3 linked regions of the Homo sapiens genome follow. The protein of the gene in region 3 purifies or fractionates together with the protein of the main gene of each other region. This does not show direct contact. Each region holds a gene or a part of one and is shown on either strand. Other genes may lie near its edges.

What was found.
Region 1: the proteins of DDX18 (region 3) and RRP1B purify together in Homo sapiens (affinity purification with mass spectrometry; 2 studies listed by BioGRID and IntAct, with this or other methods). This does not show direct contact.
Region 2: the proteins of DDX18 (region 3) and RBM28 purify together in Homo sapiens (affinity purification with mass spectrometry; 2 studies listed by BioGRID, with this or other methods). This does not show direct contact.

What each region holds. Positions count from the first base shown.
Region 1 is NC_000021.9:43,690,105-43,697,417, forward strand, and holds the end of RRP1B (ribosomal RNA processing protein 1 homolog B), read left to right. Parts: intron 1-183; coding exon 184-336; intron 337-1,334; coding exon 1,335-1,398; intron 1,399-3,085; coding exon 3,086-3,279; 3' UTR 3,280-5,975; downstream 5,976-7,313. UniProt on the Homo sapiens protein: Positively regulates DNA damage-induced apoptosis by acting as a transcriptional coactivator of proapoptotic target genes of the transcriptional activator E2F1.
Region 2 is NC_000007.14:128,319,071-128,327,363, reverse strand, and holds part of RBM28 (RNA-binding protein 28), read left to right. Parts: intron 1-1,472; coding exon 1,473-1,546; intron 1,547-2,669; coding exon 2,670-2,805; intron 2,806-3,772; coding exon 3,773-3,837; intron 3,838-5,939; coding exon 5,940-6,098; intron 6,099-8,293. UniProt on the Homo sapiens protein: Nucleolar component of the spliceosomal ribonucleoprotein complexes.
Region 3 is NC_000002.12:117,809,811-117,818,117, forward strand, and holds the start of DDX18 (ATP-dependent RNA helicase DDX18), read left to right. Parts: upstream 1-4,880; 5' UTR 4,881-4,967; coding exon 4,968-5,052; intron 5,053-7,633; coding exon 7,634-7,918; intron 7,919-8,307. UniProt on the Homo sapiens protein: ATP-dependent RNA helicase that plays a role in the regulation of R-loop homeostasis in both endogenous R-loop-prone regions and at sites of DNA damage.

The DNA.
Region 1 (7,313 bases), on a different chromosome or scaffold from region 3:
TTGTGCGTGAAGCCTGAGCTCTGCCGAATGGAAGGGCTGTCTGCAAGTGCGGTGCGGAAGACCGCGGGCCGTCGGGTGGGCTGGATCTGCCTGGGGCTCTGCCTTCCCCTCCTGTGTGTGTGGGCAGCACAGGAGGCTCTGTCGTCTGACCCCTCCTCCGCTTCTCACCCCTCGCTCACGTAGGGAAGCAGTGGGACTTGCAGTTCCCTGAAGAAGCAGAAGCTGAGGGCAGAGAGCGACTTTGTGAAGTTTGACACCCCCTTCTTACCAAAGCCCCTGTTCTTCAGAAGAGCCAAGAGCAGCACTGCCACCCACCCTCCAGGCCCTGCCGTCCAGGTACGCACCCTCCCCAGAGTGGCACAGCACATTTCACCACAAGGGCACAGATGGGCTTGAGCTGACAGTGCTTCCCATGCCGGGCCTGGAGCCCCACTGTGGCCCTCTGAGCCTGTCCACAGTGGACAGGTTCCACGGCCAGGGTAGCATAAGGTCTGAGTGGTCTGGGACCCACCCTGAGGGATCACAGTCAGGAAGGGGACTTTGAGGGGCGGTTGATCCACACATTCTGCCTCCCAGGGCTTCCGGCTCAGGGTTTGCAGAAACCAGTTTTCTCTCGTGAAATGTCACAGTGTTAAACACAAGTGGTGCAAGTCAGCAGTAGGAGGTCCACACAGAAATGTGGGTCAGAGCAGGAACTTGAGGCAGTGCTTCCTGATGCAGGCTGGATCCACTTCCAGGAATGTAAGTAGGAAAGAAGATAGTTGATTGTGGTGAACTGTTGGGATATGCAGATAGCTCAGAGTCCTTGTGCACAAAAAGCTGGAAACTGTGTGTCCATTGTCCATTGCAGTGAGATTCCATCATAGGCATCGTCTCATCGATGTCATAGAGTCTTCAAGTTAGAAGTTCAGAACTCTCCAGCAAAAGGCAGGGGAGTCTTGGCATTTTTCCTCACGGGTTCTCAGTGGTGAACTGTTTTTAGGACAGTTCAGGCATCCTCTCTGTTTGCCTTTCTTCCCTGGATCGTAGAACCCTGCAGCGGTAATGAGGCAGTGACCGCAGATGGGCCAAGAGTGTGGGCACCACTGACCCTGGGCTGGGGGGTTGCGTGTGTGGGACGCTGGGAAGGACAAAGGGCGGTCCTGGTGAAGCCCCGACAGGAGGGTCGGTTTCAGTCTTGGCCGCAGTCCCTTTGGCCTCTCCCTATATGTGCCACTCAGTAAGCAGCAGTGTGGGCGGCATACCCTCCAGGGCAGGTTCTCCAGAAAAATCTGACTAAGCGCCTCCACTGCACTTGCGTCACTCCTTTTGTTCCTGTTATTTCTCTTCTGCAGCTAAACAAGACACCATCCAGCTCCAAGAAAGTCACCTTTGGGCTGAACAGAAACATGACTGCCGGTAAGTGGGGTTTTGCCAGCGGCAAGCTTCTCTGGAGCACAGCTGCAGCTCCTGGCGCGGCTCGCAGCCTGGTTCCACAAGGCGGTCGGGGAAGAGGGGGGTCCTAGCTCCTCACTGCCCATTTCTTTATTTTTATTTTTTTTTTTTTTTTGAGACAGAGTCTCGCTGCTCTGTCACCCAGGCTGCAGTGCAGTGGCGAGATCTTGGCTCACTGCAACCTCCGCCCCCCCAGGTTCAAGCGATTCTCCTGCCTCAGGCTGCCGGGTAGCGGGTAGCTGGGATCACAGGTGCACGCCATCACATCCAGCTAATTTTTGTATTTTTAGTAAAGATGGAGTTTCACCATGTCAGCCAGGCTGGTCTCAAACTCCTGACCTCAGGTGATCTGCCTGCCTCGGCCTCCCAAAGATCTGGGATTACAAGCGTGAGCCACCGAGCCCGGCCCCTCACTGCCCATTTCTGAGTCAGAAGGAAGCACCTATGTGTCTGTCCCTCATCCTCAAAGGGCTGTGAGTGGGGTGCCAGTGGTGAGTGGGCAGCCAATTGCCTGGGACCTGTTAAGAGAAGCTACCTGGTGAGACGTGATCCAAAAAGCCGTTTTCCCAAGTGTCTTTCTAAATACTGAAAGCCGTCCCATAGAGAGGCCATTTGAGATCGTAGTGCTCCATCAGCTGTAGCTGTCTCTCTGCGAAACTTCGGAACCACTTGCTTCTTGGGCGACAGAGAAGGGTAACCCCTATCTTCCTACTTTTCATATTGGTGCCATCCATTCGAGTTGCTTTTACAAAGGAAACCAAAGTTTTAAAAAGTAGTATAGGCCAGGCGCGGTGGCTCATGCCTGTAATCCCAACACTTTGGGAGGCCAAGGTGGGCAGATCATGAGGTCAGGAGTTCGAGACCAGCCTGGCCAACATGGTAAAACCCCGTCTCTACTAAAAATACAAAAATTACCTGGGCGTAGTGGCAAGCACCTGTAGTCTCAGCTGCTCGAGAGGCTGAGGCAGGAGAATTGCTTGAACCCAGGAGATGGAGGTTGCAGTGAGCCAAGATCGTTTCACTGCACTCCAGCCTGGGTGACAGGCTGGGTGAGACTCCATCTCAAAAAAAAAAAAAAAGTATTATAACGAATTTAGGACCTGACTCTTGTTGGGAACTGCAAGTAATAGAGAGTATGTGTATGTGTGAGTGTGTGTACATGCACCAGTATATATGTGTGTGTGCGTGTGCATGCACACATGCGTGAGTGTGTATGTTTAGGGAGAAGAGACTCTGAGAGACTGAGGAGCTCACCCAGCCTTTACAACTGGAGAAAATGAACAGTACGAATCCTGCAGCTCCACATAGCACAGATTTGTCCCAGACACAAATGCCTGGTTCACTCATTGTCCAAAACACCCCCACCCCCAATGTTCACCCTTCCAGGAGCCACCCTACCAGCAGCTCCCCTTAGTCTGTGCAGGCAGCCCTGGGCCCTCCCTTGGGAGGGTGAGTTGAGGCATGGGATGTGGCCTCACTGCCCTCCTTTCCTCAGAAGGCTCTTGGGCCTGCTCTCTGCAGGGCCTTGAGATGGCCCTGCTTCGTCCTAGCAAGTGGGTGGGGTCGGCACCCAGGCAGGACGCTGTCTAAGGTGTTGAAGGGACAGCTGTCGGACCCACTTAATATGGGGCCTTGCTCTCATTTGGGACAGAATTCAAGAAGACAGACAAGAGTATCTTGGTCAGTCCCACGGGCCCTTCTCGAGTGGCCTTCGACCCTGAACAGAAGCCCCTCCACGGGGTGCTGAAGACCCCCACCAGCTCACCTGCCAGCTCACCCCTGGTGGCCAAGAAGCCCCTGACCACCACACCAAGGAGAAGGCCCAGGGCTATGGATTTCTTCTGAGGAGCAGCAGAGTCCCTTGTAAAAGACTGCTTTTGTACAGAATGCGCTATAAATTATACCTTTAAGAATGTGGGGCCTTTTTTATGATTTTGTAAGTTCCCATAAGTTGTGTGCACGAGGTTCTGAGAGTGCCCGCAGGCTGCTGCGTCCTGGCCCCTCTGTAGTGGCTGCGGGCGTCTTGGTTGAATCTTTTGCTACAAACCATGTTTGCGTTTGAGCTCTCCAGGATTTTACATTTTTGGGTAACCTCAGTGATTCCCATTGGTGTAGGAAATGAGACCCTCTCTGAAGCTGAGGAGAGCACGTTGATCTGAACTTTAAATCAATCAGTGCTGCTGGCACAATGAAAGGTGGAACTGCACTTCTGTTGAGCTCTCAGTTCTGCGGAATTTGGTACTCATTACCGTATTCGCCGTACTAAGTTGGTTTCTGTTAGTCTTAACAGTCTGTTTTCTTTTAAAAGCATGTAGGGCTTCATTGCCATGTTCTGTGGGTGTTTGGCAGGTTACCGATGGGGAAGATTCTTGTCACAGAATCAGCAATACCATAGTTTTTCTACATGTGCTCAGCTGGGGGTGTGGACAGGTAGGGGTGGGGAAAGAAGAGGCTCTGCGTTCTGGGGGCTTTTTCTTCTCCTCCCCCTACCCGGTTTCCCTCCCTGTTTTCCTACCTCTACGGCAAGCCCAAAGTGTCTTCCCGGGAGCCCAGCGCAGCCCCCGGCTCTTACCCAGGACCCCGCCCCGTGCTGAGCCTTCTGCTGAGGTCCTTGCGTGGAGCACACTCATTCCTCCAAGCCCTTGCGCTCCCGTTTCTCTCTCTCTCCGTCCACGTTCCAGCCGAGTCACTGCCTGACCGGCTCCATGGCAGCTCCCCATCTTCCCTAGAGGCTGCCTGCGCATCTGGAGCCTGCGCTCCGGCTCAGCGACCTTTCCTCTCAAATGCGGAAGCGTGCACTTACAGTTCAGACCGTTCTCCTGTAAGTTCATTACAAACACGGGCGGAAGGCACTCAGGCTTTCGTTGGAGAAACAGAAATAAGGCCTTCTTTTGAGCAGCGATTGCTGGATCATTGATCTGTTTGAGGAAGTGTCTGACCTGGGCCTGAGAGCTGGAGAAGGTGCAGATTCAAAGTGAGCGGCTCCTGAGGAGAGCCGCCAAGGCTGCTCGCCTTCTCCGTGGCTTCCGCAGCTACCGTCTGCACGGTGAGAGGGCACGGGCACACGGTTCGGGCTGGCGTGCAGCTCTCCCAGCCAGCCACGCTCTGCTCAGGCCTGGAAGTGAAAGCCGCCTCCTTCCCGTTATGCCCCCCATACAGGAGCCTCGGTTTTTCAGCAAAACGCGGCCAGTCCCCTTCTCCACTGCTGCCTCCCAGCAGAGGGCCCCAGGATCTCCAAGGTCCCAGCTATGGCTTTGGACAACGTGGCTTCGGCCCCTGGGGTTGCAGAGCTTGCATTGGGTTTACCTCGGTCTCATTCATTCATGGAGCCAAGGGTGGGGTTTCACCTGCGAACATCAGACTGACTTGCTGGCGTCAAGAGCAGTTGACTCACTGATGAAGGCCCTGGTGAGGAGAAAGCACTCTGTTCTTCGCCTACTCTGTAATCGTTTTGTCATAATGAGCCATGAAAAAAGTAATGAACTTGTGCTGTTAATCGTCACTGTAATGAGAAGTCTTACGTACAACATAGCTGTGGTGGCTTAATGGCTGCATTAGATAGGATCCTCACATCCCATTCAGAACCAAAACTGATACAGTGAAACAATTAAGGTGAGCAAATAGTTTTAACTTTTCTTTTTTTTTTTTAAGTTTCATTCTTCCTAGAATATTTTTCTAACAATTTTTATTTCAGCTTTAAAGATGGGTCATATAGCCAAACGGGCCATATAATCCAACATTGTTGAGATGTCTTAGGACATCTAAGGCAAAACTGGCACATTTGTTCTGCAGACTATTGCAGGAATGTTTTTTCCTAGCATTTCTATATTATCTGTCCATTCTGAGGAACCAGTGAATGTCCTATAAATGCACCTCCTGTCAAAACCATGCCTGAGAGGTCCCGGCTGGGAGTGACAGGGTGCTTCTTAGATTCTATTGGTCCTTCTCTCATTCTCCGAACTTACTCCTTTTTATGGGTAAGTCAACTAGGTTTACAGTCCCTTATTTTTAATGCCTAAGTTTTGACAGCAGGAAGAAAACAATTTTTTAAAAATTCTCATTACATAGACGCACAAGAATATGTCACATAAAGAAAATGTGTTTAGAATACTGGTTTTCTATTTACGCATGATATTTTCCTAAGTAAAATTGCCAAGTGGACTTGGAAGTCCAGAAAGGAAAATAATTTAAATTAATGCTGGTGATCTTAACAATATTTTGTAAAATGATGCTTCCCCCTTCTCCATGGTCTAGTCAATTTTGTACAATTAGGTATCTGACTTTACAAGTTTGTTATCCTTTCTAATTTTTACTGAACTGAAAGCACAAAGAAGACTACACAGAAAATCTGGAAACAGTTGCAGGTGTTGGGAGGAAGATGAAATCGAGCTGTCTTTTAACTTTTGTATGTGTTTTATCAGAATTTGCTGGACTATGCTGGCAAGGACTTTGTTTACGATCAAATTGTACTAGTGTCTGCAGGGTTTGTCAGTACTCGTCAAAGCCAAGTCCAATTAAAAAAAAAAGTCTTTGCCCTCCAATTTGTGTTTGATGTTGACTTTCAGTATGGGTAAAAATAGGCCTCTTTGGGAGCTGTTCCAGCACAGCAGAGTTGGGAAGATATTGGTGTTGGTCGGGTTTGAAAACAAGACTCTGGGTACCATTCTCTTCATCTCTCTGCTGCTGCCAGAGCCGGTGGGGGCGCTGCTCCGGGGATCGTCTCCAAGTGCTTGAAGCAGGCCTCACTGCGCACAAATGCCCTTGCTCACTATCGTGTCTAAAACATCACTCCACAGGCCTACGCTTGTGACGATGAGCGGAGAAGTGCCAGTGTCCCGGGTGGAGATCTCCCACTGCAGCCCAGAAACTGACTCCAGCTAGGGTGAGGCGGGCACAGGGAGGCTGCAGCTGGGTGAGGCGGGCACAGGGAGGCTGCAGCTAGGGTGAGGCGGGCACGGGTGGGCTGGTACCCAGCAGACAGCCTGTTCTGGGTGTTGGCAGTGGGTGTGGTCAGTGTTGGGCAAGCAGAGTACAGGCATGGCGGAGTCTTTATAGGCCCGTGTTCCCCGAAACAAATTTTTCACCTGTTCTTTGGATCCCAGACAAGTCCACAGACAGACACTGAACAAGCAAGCAAACAAAAACAAACCCTGGGCCAGGCGCGGCGGCTCACCCCAGTAATCTCAGCCCTTTGGGAGGCCTAGGCAGGCAAGTCGCTTGAGTCCAGGAGTTTGAGACCAGCCTGGGCGACATGGCAAAACCGTGTCTCTACAAAAAAAAAAAAAAAACAAATAATTAGCCAGGCGTGGTGGCGTGCATCTGTAGTCCCCGCTACTTGGGGGCCTGAGGCAGGAGGATTGCTTGAACCTGGGAGGTCACGGCTTCAGTGAGCTATGATCATACCACTGCACTCCAGCCTGGGTGACAAAATGAGACCCTGTCTTTAAAAAAAAAAAACAAGCCCTAGAGGAAGAAGGAAATCTGTTGTAATGTATTATTTAAAATGTCCAGTTTTCAACAAAAACAAGGTAAGACATTCAAAGAAACAAAAGAGTGTCACATACACAAGGAGCAGAGAGGCAATAGACTGGCTTTGAGGGCACCCAGGTGCTGATCTTAGCAGACAAACTTCAACCAGCCCTTATCAATATGTTCCCATCACTAAAAGAAACTATATTTAAAGAAATAAAAGATGGGGCCGGGCGCAGTGTCTCACGCCTGTAATCCCTGCACTTTGGGAGGCCAAGGCGGGTGGATCACCTGAGGTCAGGAGTTCGACACCAGCCTGGCCAACATGATGAAACCCCCGTCTCTACTAAAAATACAAAAATTAGCCGGGGAGGCTGAGGCAAGAGAATCTCTTGAACCTGGGAGGCAGA
Region 2 (8,293 bases), on a different chromosome or scaffold from region 3:
AGTAGAGGACAGAGACTTTTACTCTGAGAAGCAGATCTGCCCATATCTGATGCCTCCCAAGTGACTGTGTGACAGTGAGATCTGTAATTAAGTTCAGGGTTAAGTGGTTCCTGCTTTATTTTTTAGTCCTCTAATAGGTACTTCATAAGTGATGCTGAATTAAGTGTTAGGCTGGAATTTCTCTACCATTTCATGTGGATATTTCTTTTCTTTTCTTTTCTTTCTTTTTTTTGAGACAAGGTCTCGCTCTGTCACCCTGGCTGTAGTGCAGTGATCATGGCTTACTGCAGCCTTGACCTCCCGAGGTCAGGTCATCCTCCCACCTCAGCTTTCTCGGTAGCTGGGACTATAGGCATGCACCACCACACCCAGCCAATTTTTTTTTTTCTTTCGTAGAGACAGGGTTTTGTCATGTTGCTTAGGCTCTAACTCTTGGGCTTAAGCGATCTTCCTGCCTTGGTCTCCTAAAGAGCTGGGATTACAAGTGTAAGCCACCACACCCAGCCTTCACATGGATATTTCTTATTAAGAGAGATCATGAGACTAAAGTTCTAAGAAGAATTAGAACAGATGAAGGAAGTAATAATAAAATTTCATTAAGAGCAGTGGTATCTTTGTCTTGATTATTTGGTACCTAACATAGTGCCTGTGTCATAGTGCAATATGCGTCACTTAATGATGGGGATACATTCTGCAAAGTTCATTATTTGGTGATTTTGTCATTGTGTGAATGTCATAGTGTACTTATACAAACCTAGGTGGTATGGCCTACTACACACATAGGTCATATGTGCTCCTAGGCTACAAACCTGTACAGCACAGCATGTTGTTATACTGAATGTTGTAGGCAGTTGTAACATAATGGTAAGTATATGTGTATCTAAGTATTTCTAAACATAGAAAAGGTATAGTAAAATGCAGTATAAAAGATAAAAAATGGTACAACTGTATAGGGCAGATCCATTGTAATCTTCTGGGACCACTGTTGTATATGCAGTCTGTCACTGACCAAAACGTCCTTATGCAAGTACATGGCTGTACTTTTTTTTTTTTTTTTTTTTGAGACGGAGTCTTGCTCTGTTGCCCAGGCTGGAGTGCAGTGGCACTATCTTGGCTCGCTGCAACTCCGCCTCCCAGGTTTACGCCATTCTCCTGCCTCAGCCTCCCAAGTAACTGGGACTACAGGTGCCCGCCACCACGCCTGGCTAATTTTTTGTATTTTTAGTAGCGACGGGGTTTCACTGTGTTGGCCAGGATGGTCTTGATCTCTTGACCTCATGATCTGCCCGCATCGGCCTCCCAAAGTGCCGGGATTACAGGTGTGAGCCACTGCACCCGGCTACATGGCTGTACTTAATAAATGGATGCCACCTATCCCTTCCACTCTGTGTCAGGCTGTTGCCATTTGCAATGTTGTCTTTGGTTTATCTGTGGGAGTTTGGGATCTCACTGAATTGTGTCTCCTTGTGCAGGTTGTGCATTTGCCCAGTTCATGACTCAAGAAGCAGCTCAGAAATGCCTTCTAGCTGCTTCTCCAGAGAATGAGGTAAGGAAGATATTTCCTTTACCTTATAACACAGGAGGCAGTTTGGCTCTTAGGGGCAACATCTGGTATTTATACAAAGCTTTATTATTATTTTTCTTGTCAGTAATAATAAAACTAACACTTATTTAGCACTTTGTGTTAGGCACTGAACTTTACATGCATTATCTTAATCATTACATCAGCCCTTTGAGGTAGGCAGAATTATGATCTCTACTTCATAGGTGAGGAAAAGGGGATAATAACGTATCTGATATTTGTTGCTTGCTGTCTGTGTCAGCCTCTATCCTAGACTGATAACATGAAAGACTAGGATGAGGTATTAAGGTCGTCTGTGAAGTAGAGTAGATGTTTGAGAGAGAATGTGTGTGGGTGATGGAGAATTACTCCATTTGTTCTATAGTCGAGTATAATGTTATCTAATATTGCTGTTATTTCTTAAGTCCTCTTGAGTAAGTACTCTACTATTTCACTAGCTTACTTTACAATACTAGACATTTGCCTGGTTACAGATAATTTTCCTCAGTTTGGGTCTACTTTGGGACTAATCAACTCCCAGAAAATAAATTCTTTACTGCTGACTGCCTGAAATACACATGTGGCCTTTTGCACAGCTATACTAAATATTGTGAGGCCCAGTGATCCATTTGTAGCTAGCTGAGCTGAAACGTCGTAGGGCTTGGCTTCCATAGCGTAATTGATGTTTGCTGTATCCCTTTCTGTGGTGTTCTTGTCAGGTGCTTAGTTTCTAGTTTCTACTCATTATGTGTTGTTTTGTTTTGTTATTTTTTTATTTTATTTTATTTTTTTTGAGGTGGAGTCTCGCTCTGTCTCCCAGGCTGGAGTGTAGTTGCGCGATGTCCGCTCACTGCAAGCTCCGTCTCCCAGGTTCATGCCATTCTCCTGCCTCAGCCTCCTGAGTAGGATTACAGGCGCACACCACCATGCCCGGCTAATTTTTGTATTTTTAGTAGAGACGAGGTTTCACCATGTTGGCCAGGCTGGCCTTGAACTCCTGACCTCAGGTGATCCACCTGCCTCAGCCTCCCAAAGTGCTCGGTTTACAGGTGTGAGCCACTGTGCCCGGCCATTATGTGTTTTAAGAAAGGGTTGTGATCTGTTACAGGCTGGTGGGCTTAAACTGGATGGCCGGCAGCTCAAGGTTGACTTGGCGGTGACCCGTGATGAGGCTGCAAAGCTTCAGACGACGAAGGTGAAGAAGCCGACTGGCACCCGGAATCTCTATCTGGCCCGAGAAGGCTGTGAGTAGGGAGATGTAACCCACACTTCTAAGTACCTGGCCCTGTGCCATAATCATTGATCAAGCAATAGTATGCCTGGAAGCATGTTTCAAATTAAAAACCCAAATGTTCTCTTTAACAGTGTTATATGATCATTCCACTTTAATAAATGTGGCTCTCTATTAGTAAACCTTCACTCGTTTTTGTGGATTAACTGTCCCATTATCTTTTCTGCCTGGTTGCCTTTAGTCTTTTTCAATAGAGGATTGGCAAGGCAAAGGGGGAGGAAGAACTCAAAATACCTTTGCTTCTTGTCATCATTTCTAATAAGAGGTTTTCATTATGACTAAAATTACTCTTTTGGATTATTCATGGATTTAAAATGTGCACCCAATACTTTCCTTTAGTGTCAGAAAGACAAAAAAATTAGCTTTAAATTTTTAAAAAAATTCTTCTAGGTCACACAGCATTTATCAGCTCACCTCCTCCATAGCTTCACAGCCTGTACTAGTAATGTCCTTTAGCCTTCGACACCAGCCTTCTATGGCAACATAACTGTTTTCGGCTGGCTTATCTCACTGTTTAGTAATGGACCTCAAGTATATAAGGAACAGCAAAGTTAAGTTCCAAGGGCAGATTATAGGTGGAACATTGTGCATTCTAAATGCCCAAAATGTACTTATGTTCCATACTTCTTCTAGGCCTTTCTTTCTGACTTTGGGCATGTACGTGAAGATTCTTTGAGGGGAGAGAAGGAGAAGAGGAATAAAATCACAAAATGTTTAGAGTTTTAGTCCTTGAGAGCAGCTCTGAGCCCAGAACTTAGCCCTGTAGCCTATTTCTGGACCTAACCAAATGCCACCGTGTCCTGGCCAAGATAGTCCTCTGGGCCCTGTACAAAGAGTTTGCATCATTCAAATCACATTCCTCTTGTTGCTCAGTGAAAATTCCCTTGTTGATGTCTTGGCCTTTTTCCCTCTTTCTGCAGTGATTCGTGCTGGGACGAAGGCTGCAGAGGGTGTGAGTGCTGCTGATATGGCCAAAAGAGAACGGGTGAGTAGATTAGGCATTGACCTTCACGTTCTGCGTGGCCTATAAATCAATCAAAAATAGTTATCGAATGCTAGATGTGCTCATCAAAGAGCCCAGTATGGTCACAGACCATACTTATTGCCCTGTTAGGGAGAAAAGCACATAGGTGAAATAGCAAGTAACCCAACATCATACATAGTATTCTATCTGTTTTGTATGCTGGTATAAAAGAACTGTGTCTTATTATTTGTTTCCCTAGTGCTTGGCAGTAAATGTTTGCTGAACACATGCTGCTACATCATGCAGTAGACAGTCAGAGGCTATTGCTACATGTAATTAGGTGTCAGTATAAACACAGAATAATGTAAAAGAGGAAGATCAGAATGAGCTGGAGTTATTAGAGAAGGGAGAAGATATGGCTCTTGAAAGGGGTAGCTGTCAGTTGGGAGGAGTTATAATCTCCAGATTATAAAATCATTTTAGAAAAACTCCATTTTATGGATGTTTCCGATGTTAACCGATAACTCATATTCCTTTGCTGCTTGGTAATGTTCCCAGTAATTTTTACTTTTTCCCATATAACTTACTTTCAAAAAGCCAAGCCAGCCTAGAAGGGTAAAGATGCATAACTGTGAACAGAATTAGCTATGGAACCTTAACATGCAGATGAGGAACAGGGGTGAGAGTGTAATGACAGCAGGAGGCAGTGCGTCTTTTTTTCAGTGGGCACAGATTCTGCACTAGTGTTTTCAACTTTTGTGGTAGTGAACACCTAGAAATCATAGGCTCTGGAGACCCATCCTTAACTGGAGAAATTACAGAAAATTTTAAAGCCTCAATTTTATAAGGGCACTATATACCCTTGTCTGATCACAGTGCAATAATGACATATTTAATTTAAAACTAATTTTGTTAGCAAAAAGCTCATTCAATGATAGGTATGCATTATAAATTCACAGCAGGCACAGCTTTTCCTGACAGAAAAATAGTCTGTTGAACTTAAACATGATAGCCTTTTCAGATGTTCCTTTAATAGTCGTTTTCCAAGGGATTTGTTTATTTTGTGATCTGTTGGTACTTTTACCAAACAAGAAGCAGCAGGACTGAGAAGACTTGACAAAAGAAAAACTTTTAATTGAAAACTTTTTTCTACCAACTTGGTTTAAAAAAAACTAATTGGGAGAAGAATGTCATCTTTCATTTCATTTTAGACACAGATCACGCAGGAACTGGGGTTTTGTGGCAGCATAGTTGAGGGTATTGCTCTAAGAGCAAAATATGGTTCTGTGGTCATTGATACTCCTTTGCCTCAGGGTGGCAGAGTTGAGACAACACAGCATTCTGTCAAGTATTCTTTGAATAACTTCCATTTCCTTTTGGAAGGATTAGATAATCAGTTGAGCTGGTGGGTAGATGAGGACTGGGCATAGATATTAATCACAGTATTATTTGTTGTTTGTTCTGAGCTACATTTTGAGCTAGGGAATTTTTTTTTTTTTTTGACCGAATTTCACTCTTGCTGCCCAGGCTGGAGTGCAATGGCACGATCCTGGCTCACCACAACCTCCGGCTCCCAGGTTCAAGCGATTCTCCTGCTTCAGCCTCCCGAGTAGCTGGGATTACAGGCATGCACTACTATGCCTGGCTAATTTTTGTATTTTTAGTAGAGACAGGGTTTCACCATGTTGGCCAGGCTGATCTTGAACTCCTGACCTCGGGTGATCTGCCTGCCCTGGCCTCCCAAAGTGCTCGGATTACAGGCATGAGCCACCCTGCCCAGCCTTATATTATCTCATTTTGGCCTCACCTCAGTGCTCAGAGACCTTGATCTACTGTTTCGTTTTATAGATGAAAAATTGTGGCTTTAAAATTTTATGTAATTTCTCCAGTTAGGGATGGGTCTCCAGAGCCTATGATTTTACTATTACCCACCCACCATCTTGTTCCCTTGGACTTTTCTTTCCCTATACTAGGCATTGTAAAGCTGCGGTGTGGGCAGTTTCCATCCGTTTTCTATATGTGTGGTTATGGGATGAGGATCATAATTCTTTCCTTTTGGAGAATTATGAGCCTACCTCTTAAAAAGAGTGGGTTGTACTGTTAACCATTGGTTGTTCTTTCAGTTTGAGCTGCTGAAGCATCAGAAACTCAAGGACCAGAATATCTTTGTCTCCCGAACCAGGCTCTGCCTGCACAATCTCCCAAAGGCTGTAGATGACAAACAGCTCAGAAAGCTGCTGCTGAGTGCTACTAGTGGAGAGAAAGGGGTGCGCATCAAGGAGGTGAGACGTGGCCCTGACCATTTTGGAGCTTTCATTCTGATCTTGGGTCAGATCAAGCATTTCCCTCAGGCTGTGGTGCCAGATTTTGTTTGTTTGTTTTGAGACGAAGTCTCACTCTGTTGCCCAGGCTGTAGTGCAGCGGTGCAATCTTGACTCACTGCAACCTCCTCCTCCTGGGCTCAAGCAGTTCTCCTGCCTCAGCCCCCTGAATAGCTGGGACTATAGGCGTGCGCCACCACGCCTGGCTAATTTTTGTATTTTTAGTAGAGAAGGGATTGCACCATGTTAGCCAGGCTGGTCTCGAACTCCTGACCTCAAGTGATCTGCCCACCTCGGCCTCCCAAAGTGCTAGGATTACAGGCGTGAGCCACTGTGCCGGGCCATCAACAGACTTTCTTCTGGACATGTTGTCAGCATGCATAGCTGAGTTTAGCAGTTTCTTGGTTTTGTTCTTTTTCTTCTAAGAATTGTCTTTTACATCTGACTGAATTACAGCAGAATGCAAGGAAATCTCTGTCTGCATGAATTAATTTAGCAAGCATTTATTAAATGCCTGTTGTGTGCTTAGCATTATACTTTGTGCTATCATGTGAATTTTCTTGCAGAGAAAATAATCTGCTTTGCTTTTTGGAAGAGTATTTTACTCCTAGTTAGATTCTTACCCTGTGTTCAGAGTCCCCTATGCCTTGTGGTCAACACAGGAAGCCATGTAGATGTTCAGCAGTTGAATTAGAAAAACACTGGGTTCACACCAACTTGGTTAGACTCTGTGTGAGTACAGAACTTTTCTGCCTCCACATTCCCCTTTGCGTATTTCTCTTTTCTTTTTTTTCTTTTCTTCCTTTCTTTTTTTTTTTTTAGATGTGGTCTTGCTCTGTCTTTGGCTGGAGTGCAGTGGCACCATCTCGGGTCACTGCAAACCGCCACCCCCCCCCCCCCCAAGCTCAAGCAATCCTCCCACCTCAGCCTCCCAAGTAGTTGGGCCTATAGTTACACACCACCATGCCTGGCTAATTTCTTTCTTTCTTTCTTTTTTTTTTTTTTTTTTTTGAGACGGAGTCTCACTCTGTCGTTAAGCTGGAGTGCAGTGGCATGATCTCGGCTCAACGCAACCTCCGCCTCCCGGGTTCAAGCGATTCTCTTGCCTCAGCTTCCCGAGTAGCTGGGACTACAGGCATGCACCACCACGCCCAGCTGATTTTTGTATTTTTAGTGGAGACGGGGTTTCACCATGTTGCCAAGATGGTCTCGATCTCTTGACCTCAAGTGATCCGCCTGCCTCGGCCTCCCAAAGTGCTGGGATTACAGGCGTGAGCCACCTCGCCCAGCCCATGCTTGACTAATTTCTTGTTTTTGGTAGAGACAGGGTTTTGTCATGTTGCCCAGGCTGGTCGCAAATTCCTGAGCTCAGATGATTCCCCTGCTTCGGCCTCCCACAGTGCTGGAATTATAACAGTGAACCACTGGGCCTGGCCTTGCATATCTCTGTCATACTGGTTACTATTACCCTGGCCTCAAACTGTCTGTCAGTCACTTCTCCCCACTAGACTGAGTTTTTGAGGCAAGCGTTATCTCATTATCCCCAATCCTTGGTGTAGTACCTGGTACATAGTCATCTCTTAGTCAATATTTATTTTAAAAGTACCATTGCCAATATTTTGGGCCTGCTTTACTCTGTTTCGCTACCATAAACTGTTTTCCTAATCCCTGAAAACCTCTTCAAAATGTATGGATTGGTATTTGGGAGATTACTTGAGAGAATGTGAATATATCAGCACATATCTGACACCACAGTTAGTAAAACTGCTCAGTGTTACTGGTTATAGGGGAGGGACAGTTGTGTAATTTCTCCTATCATCCGAATACTTAGTGCCTACATATTTAACACCTGTCATAATTTAGAGAAATTTATGTTTATTCTAGAATATTTTGCATTATGTTGAATTTTCCTCTTAATTCTTTCCTATTTGTATGTATAGTGTCTCAGTAAGATGGTAAGCATCTTGAGAACAGGATCTTCATTATATGCTTCTCTTGATTCCCTTACAGTGTATGACAGTTCTAGGCACAGAGTGGACACTGGACATAAACTAAATGCGGCATCCATGCATCCCCAATACTTAGCTGTTTCCATTACATGAGAACGACAGCTTTGGTAGTAATGGCATGTAAATGATCAGTTTTCTCGAAAAATC
Region 3 (8,307 bases):
AAAAAGTCAGGAAACAATACACGCTGGCGAGGCTGTGGAGAAATAGGAACACTTTTACACTGTTGGTGGGAATGTAAATTAGTTCCACCATTGTAGAAGACAGAATGGCGATTCATCAAGAATCTAGAAGCAGAAATACCATTTGAATCCATAATCCCATTACTGGGTATATACCCAAAGGAATATAAATCATTCTACCATAAAGACATATGCACATGTATGTTTATTGCAGCACTATTTACAATAGCAAAGTCATGGAACCAACCCAAATACCCATCAATAATAGACTGAATAAAGAAAATGTGGAACATATACACCATGGAATATTATGTAGCCATAAAAAGGAATGAGGTCATGTCCTTTGCAGGGACACAGATCAAGCTGGAAGCTATCATCCTCAGCAAACTAACACAGGAACAGAAAACTGAACATCACATGTTCTCATTCATAAGTGGGAGTTGAACATTGAGAACTCATGGATACAGAGAGGGGTACAACACACACCAGGGTCTGTTGGGGGGTTGAGGGTGAAGGGAGGGAACTTAGAGGATGGGTCAATAGGTACAGCAAACCACCATGGCACACATATACCTATGTTACAAACCTGCACGTTCTGCATGTGTATCCCTTTTTTTTTAGGAGAAATAAAGAAAAAGAAGAAGAGAAAAAAAAGAAAAAGGACATTAGTGGAAAAACTAGTGAAATCTGAATAAAGTCTAATTTAGTTAATAGTGATTCACTAACGTTAATGTCTTTATTTTGATAAATGTATCACGGCTACATAAGTTGTTAACGTTAGGGAAAACTGGGTAAAGGGCACTGTTTTTGCAACTTTTTTGCAAGTCTAAAATTATTCCACATAAGAAGTGTATTAAAAATAAATTCATTTCCATCCTCTTATTTCCGCAACATACTGTACAAGCAAGACTCAGTCTGTGATTCAATCATCAGTGGTCAGACTATGACTCGAAGGGAAGGAAGTCAAATGCAGTTCATTTTAACATTGTCACTATCCCCTTATTCACTCAAGCCTGACCCAGCCCCTAGACTCTTTCCCCCTGCAAATCTCCTCTTATGCTCCTGACTACAAATCTGCTCTTGATCCCTTGAATTGTTACTTAATAGCATATTAAGACTTGTCTTTGACAGCCTTTTCTCTGACCTTAGATCTTTGCCTCCTCAAAAAATACCTCCCACCTGAATAGCATGCTGTCCTGCCCTCCCACCCATCCCTCTTTATTATATTGCATTGTCTGGTTGTAATGTCTTCCCAGCATTTAGCTTCATGCAAAGGTATCTTGTTCAATCACAAGGTTTACTTATACCTGTCGTCTCTTATCCAGGCTGTAATCTCCCTGGAAATGAGGACTTTTCCTGTCTTGTTTACTGCTGATCCCTGAGGCCTAAAACAGTACCTGGAATGGATAGATGGTATTTTTTTAAATTAATAAATGAATAAACTTCTTGACAGAAAAGTTTCTGTTATATGTTTCTGTATCCTCTCCAGCTCCTAGGACCACTGCAATAATGACTTGTCATGAATTGTGGTGATGCTCTTTAAAATAATCTCTCACTCTTATGTCCATCAGTTCACTGAAGAAAACCTTTCTTAAGTACCAGCCATCTGCTTTCTACAATGTAGAAATACACAGAACCAGATGCTGGTCCAGGAAAGTCAGGTAATGTGAAGGAGGCAACATCATGCTTATTTACAATAACATAGCACTTTTTAAGTTCCAATACACAACAGAGTGGTTAACCTTATAGAAAATAGCATTTGAAAGTTCCTAGAAAATCACTTCAAGAGTCCTAATGCAGTGATCCGAGAGGATGAGTCAGTTATTTCTGGCTCACAATTCTATGATGTTGGTGAAATAGATTGATTTCTTTTCCCAGTGAAGTGGGACGTTTTTAATTTGAATGACAAACTACACAAATCTGCGTTTTATTTTACAAACACTTGTCTCAGGTTTAAGGATCTCAAGTGAAAACTGAAAAACAAAACAGCATGAATAAGACCTGTTCTATGTTAAACTTAATTATTTTTAGTCAGGAGGTAAAAGACAGAAACTCCTGGCCAGGTGCGGTGGCTCATGCCTGTAATCTCAGCACTTTAGGAGGCTGAGGCGGATGGATCACCTGAGGTCAGGAGTTCGAGACCAGCGTGAATAACATGGAGAAACCCTGTCTCTACTAAAAATGCAAAATTATCTGGGTATAGTGGTGCATGCTTGTAATCCCAGCTACTTGGGAGGCTGAGGCAGGAGAATCACTTGAACCCAGAGGCGGAGGTTGCGGTAAGCCAAGTTCGCGCCATTGAACTCCAGCCTGGGCAACAAGAGCAAAACTCTGTCTCAAAACACACAAACAAACCAACAAAAAAAAGACAGCAACTCCCTTCCTGCTTCTGCCTGCTGCTGGCTCAGTCCCTATGCATAATGAATATTGAATGACAGACTCCATCCCCAGACCCCTTCCCAAGGCTAGGATGTTGCTCCTGTGATGTGCTTCCTTTTCACTGCATTCATCATAGTTTACCATAATCGTTTAATTTTCTGTCTTCCTTGTAAGCTCTGTAAGCTCCACCTAGGCGAGCCAGGTCTATCTTGTCCACCATTTTATACCCAGGATTTGGCACATGCCTACCACACACTCTTAGCACAAAAATGCTCAAAAAATAGTTGCATAATGACTATATTATGCGATTGTTTTATGGCGAATGACCATATTCTGAAGAGAGAGACCTCTGTGATGGAGAGCCCAAGCAAGAAGTTTTAAAGACTGAAACGCATTCTGAATAGATACTGGGATAGGCTCCAGCTGTGAAGAACAACAGGCTTTTCAGAAGCACGTGATTGTTACCTCATCCTCACAGGTAATTTTTGAGTAGCTAACCCAATGACATTGTTTTCTTTGCTAGAGTAACTGATGATGTGGCCTTGGAAATTCACTCTGTTAAAAATAACTCTCAACCCTAATTTTGAGAGTTGATTTGAAGTTATAATTTCTCATTCTTCTTCTAAAAATCCAGAAGAATTGGCATCAGTAGCTTTATCTATGTTTCTTAAAAGGTTATCAATCCCTAACGTTAAGCATTTCCATGCACCTGAAAGGATCGGCTTCTCTGATCTAAATGTCTTAAACACCTCGTAAATGTGGGTTTTTTTGGTTTTGAGGAAATGACTGCCAATCTTCACTACTAGCTAGAAAAAGTCACACTCTAGAAAAAAGGGAGTACCTTTCCATTACTACTACCAAAACATAGCCCCACAAATTTAAGTTACAACATAAAAGAAATAACAAATTTTGAGCACTTTCTATATATACTTCAGTTGTATCTATTTCAAAGTCACAGACCCAAAACTCACACATGTAATCAGGTAAATATATATGTATGTACATAGAGCTATAGAAATAGATACATATGTGTATATGCATATATATACTGATATATGCATAAATTTAAACTGGCATATATATTTACACTGAGATAAATGTTTGCGTGTGTGTGTGCGCTCTTACATTTCTGAATCATTCTTCAGCCTGCCTGATCATTAACAAATTAATCTAAGCACATTATTATTTGTTTGTCTTAGTTTTCCAGTCCAATCCAATGTGATTTCGAAGTCAATTCCTTCACATTCTGTTTAAACTCCCTCCCAAGTTTTCTCCCTCTCTGTTCCTCACTATGATCAGGTCTAATCTCCAGGGTCTCATGTTCTGCCCCTCCAAGTAAACAAATTAATCCAGGTTTCATGGACTCTTCCAGTTGTTCAGCTCAAATTGATTACTGTTAAGGGGAATTTGAGGGCATTGGGCCAATTTTTAAAGACAAATATGAATTTTTATGGAAATCTCCAAGTATTTTAATGTTGATAACAATTTTTTTAAAAATTAAATACTATATGCATACCCCTGTCTTCCTCCCCATCCCAAAAAAGAGATGACTATTAGCTAGCCACATTGCAATTTCTGTCCTGGACTGCTGAAGGGTCCTTGGGTATACTTAAGGAATATATAAACCTCTTTTTCAAACTGCAGTCAACCTATTATTAATGTAGTAAAGTTAATTTAAATTCATAGGAATCAGTATTTTTAGTAAGCTAAAAAGAATAATTTAGGATGGAATGAATGGAATTGAAGGAAAAAGAGTGAAAAGCAAGAATATTATTTTGAGAAATGTTATATTTATGTGTGTATGTGTACCAAGTGACACAGAAATTGTATTTCTGAGGAGAGTGGCCAAACAAGTTTGGAAATGCATATATATAATTTAGTTCTATTCAGTTTCCCAAATACAGTTGTCCCTCAGTATCCACAAGGGATTGAGTCCAGGACCCTCTATGGGTACCAATATCTTAGGATACTCAAAACCCTTATATACAATAGTGTAATATTTGCATTTATTTTACACACAACATCCTGTATACTTTAAATCATTTCTAAATGACTTATAATACCTTATACAACCTAAATGCTATGAAAGTAGTTATCACACTGTATTATTTTTAATTGTTTTTTTTTTAATGTTTTCAATGGGGGAGTTGGTTGAATCCACAGACAGGGAATTCAGGTACAGGGAGGGCCAACTCTAGTTCTGCACCCACAGAGGATAGGAACATAAAAATGCGGACTCCCTAAGGCCTCCTTCCCCTCCACGTTCTTTCTTCAGTCTTCCTCTAGGGGGAGCTCAAGTTAGCTTTAGCACAGTGTGAAGCCAGTGCAGCGTCTCGCTTCCACTTCTCCAGGGGGCGCTGCAAAGATTTTGGTCGCCAAAGATATCACGGTGCGCGCGTCTGGAAGCATTTCCGCTCTGGAGCATTTTCGTTCCGCCGGGTGCCAGCGTTCCTGTGACGCGTTTCCTGTTGGCCGAGCTGCGCACGTGCGGCCGGAAGGGAAGTAACGTCAGCCTGAGAACTGAGTAGCTGTACTGTGTGGCGCCTTATTCTAGGCACTTGTTGGGCAGAATGTCACACCTGCCGATGAAACTCCTGCGTAAGAAGATCGAGAAGCGGAACCTCAAATTGCGGCAGCGGAACCTAAAGTTTCAGGGTGAGATGCGTTGACTCGCGGTGGCTCAGAAGACCCACGCGCGAGCCCTGGCGCGTTCGGGCGGCCGGGGGCCCAGCTGCTCTGTGTGACGGAGGCAGCTTCCCCTGCAGCGTGTGTGATTGGGGAGAGTGAAAAGGCAGCTTCCACTCGGGACCCGCGCTGCTGCCCACTCGTCGCGTGGCTCCAGCGCTGCTCCTGACCTTTCTGAGCAATCAGTGTCTTCTTACAACGTTAGAGCGGGAGGACTCCCCGTTCACTTCTAGGCTTACGACTAACCCTGCCTTTTGCATTTCCACCTTAGCTTTTGGTTCCCTCACCACCTGCAAGTCGCACCTCACCTCATCCCTCATTTCCGGTTATGCTGCATGAAACGTCTCATTTCCACCCACTTTTCACATCTATTTAATTCCCGTATTTCTTTCCCCAAAAGCCCGTCTGGCTGTTTCCACAGAGCTTCTTTGATACTATTGCCTTCCTCTACCCACTTCCACACGTTCTCGTAGCACTTTCTCACCAGAGCTTCTACGTATTTGTGTCCCGCACAGTGACCTAAATGAAAAGGATTTTATCTGAATGTCACCTTTCTTACCTACCTCATTTGCAGTCCCAGTGTCCTGACAGTGGGGCCACAGATCTTGAAGTAATTGTGTTAACCTGTTGTCCAGGTTAAGATACAAACTCCCCGAGGGAAAGTTTGGAGGCACAGTGCCTTGCCCCAGTTGGTTTTCAACAGACATTAATTGAAAAAAAATTCTGCAGGAGGCAATAGGTTTGTGAATTTTAGGAATATGTTTTGAAATACTCTTGTATTTCTAATTCCTATAGAATAATACTACAGCATTACTACTTTTCAGCGCATATGTAAGTAAATTTGAACAAAAGATGGTGTTTTATCTTTTTCAGTAAACAAACAGGGAACCTTTGGTAAGGACATTCTCAGGTACAGTCATGCATCGCATAACAGGAGGGGGGATACATTGTGAGAAATGTGTCATTAGGGGCTTTTGTCGTTTTGCGAACTTTATCTAGTTACACAAACCTAAATCTACTACACACCCAGGCTACATGATATAGCCTGTTGCTCGTAAGCTGTCATCCTGTACAGCATGTTACTGTACTATACTCAGAGAATTGTAACACAATGGTAAGTGTATGTATGGCTAAATATATCTAAACATAGAAAAGGTACAGTAAAAAGACTATGACATGAGAGATTTAGAAAATGGTACCTCTGTATACAGTACTTACCATGAATGGAGTTTGCAGGACTGGAAGTTACCCTGAGCGAGTCAGTGAGCGGTGAGTGAATGTGAAGGCCTAGAACATTACTGTACACTATAGACTTTATAAACACTGTACACTTGGGCTACACTGTTGAGTTTTTTAATACTTTTATTCTTAAATTAACCTTAGCCTGCTGTAACTTTTACATTATAAACTTGTTAAATTTTAACCTTTTGACTTTAATAACACTTAGCTTACAACACAAGCACATTGTACATACAGCTGTACAAAAAGTTTCCTTTTGTCCTTATTCTATGTGATTTTTATTTTATTTTTTTTTCTTTTTAAGCTTTTTGTTAAAAATGTAAAGACACAGACACATTCAGTTTCACTGTCTTCCGCTTCCACATCTTGTCCCACTGGAAGATCTTCAGGGGCAACAATAGGCATGGAGCTGTCATCTCCTATGATAACAGTGCCTTCTAAAATACCTCTCTCCCTGAGGCTCTTTTACAGTCGACTCATTTTTTTTTAATAAGTAAAAGGAGTAAACTCTAAAATGATGATCAAAAGTATAGTAAACACATAAACAAGTAACATAGTTTATTATCACGTATTATGTATTGTACATAATTATGTGTGCTGTACTTTATACGACTGGCATTACAGTAGATTTGTTTATACTAGCATCACTACAAACATGAGTAATATGTTGCACTACGACATTGCAGTTACTGATGGCACTAGGTGATAGGAATTTTTTAGCTCCGTTATAATCTTATGGAGCCACTGTATATGTTGTCCTTAATTCACAGAAATGTCATTGTGCACGCATTACTGTATTTGCATATGATAAATATTGGAGCAAATAAGTGGTCTTATCAACTGAATTTTCAACTCACTGCAGTCTAGAAGAGTTGGGGTTGAATGTTTTGAAGTGGTATGAAAAATAGTACTTGTGTGAATGAGTTGTAAATGTCTTTTTCAATATATCAGTTAATCATATGTTTATCAAATACTTATGTTTATTCTGTAACTGCCATTATCTGACCTCATCTGTTTAAATATTTGACCTCATTGAAGTTTTCCTGTCCTAGACTCCTTAAAGTCAGATGTACGGTCTTTTGCAGTTAAGAAATCAATATAGCTTTCCCTTTTCCAGTATTTTTTCTTTAAGATAACTTACTTTCCCTATAAGGGAACACCATAAAACTATAAGTTGTTTTAATTACATGAAAGAGAAGAAAATCTAAATAATTTGTGTCAGGAAGCCATGGAAGTTCTCATTTGGGATTTCAGTGTTTCTAAGTAAACTTCTCCTTCTTTGTCACAGTATATGTTCTGTTTATTTAAACAGGGGCCTCAAATCTGACCCTATCGGAAACTCAAAATGGAGATGTATCTGAAGAAACAATGGGAAGTAGAAAGGTTAAAAAATCAAAACAAAAGCCCATGAATGTGGGCTTATCAGAAACTCAAAATGGAGGCATGTCTCAAGAAGCAGTGGGAAATATAAAAGTTACAAAGTCTCCCCAGAAATCCACTGTATTAACCAATGGAGAAGCAGCAATGCAGTCTTCCAATTCAGAATCAAAAAAGAAAAAGAAGAAAAAGAGAAAAATGGTGAATGATGCTGAGCCTGGTAGGTATTTATTATCTTTGAACTTCAGCCATTTAGTTTTTCACAGACGGTTATTGTTCCTCTTTCTATTACTATTGTGTGCACATGACATGAGAATTCCCTGTACTCACCAGTATGTTAGAGATTAGCCTGGTAGCTAATGGAAACATTTTATTGGCAGAAGCGGGGAGTCCATTTCAACTTTTCTCAAAATATTGAGGAATATATTTTTAATTTCACTAACCTTGAAGAAAACCTCTCTCAGAAAAGACTCTCCTTAGAATTCTAGAAATTTTCTCTTCTTTTTAAGTTACCTTTTTTCCTGCTTGATTCTTCCCATTTTCCTTCCATAAATTCCTCCCTTTGAAAGGAATATTAGTTACAAAGTATATAAAGTAGGAAACTTCTGA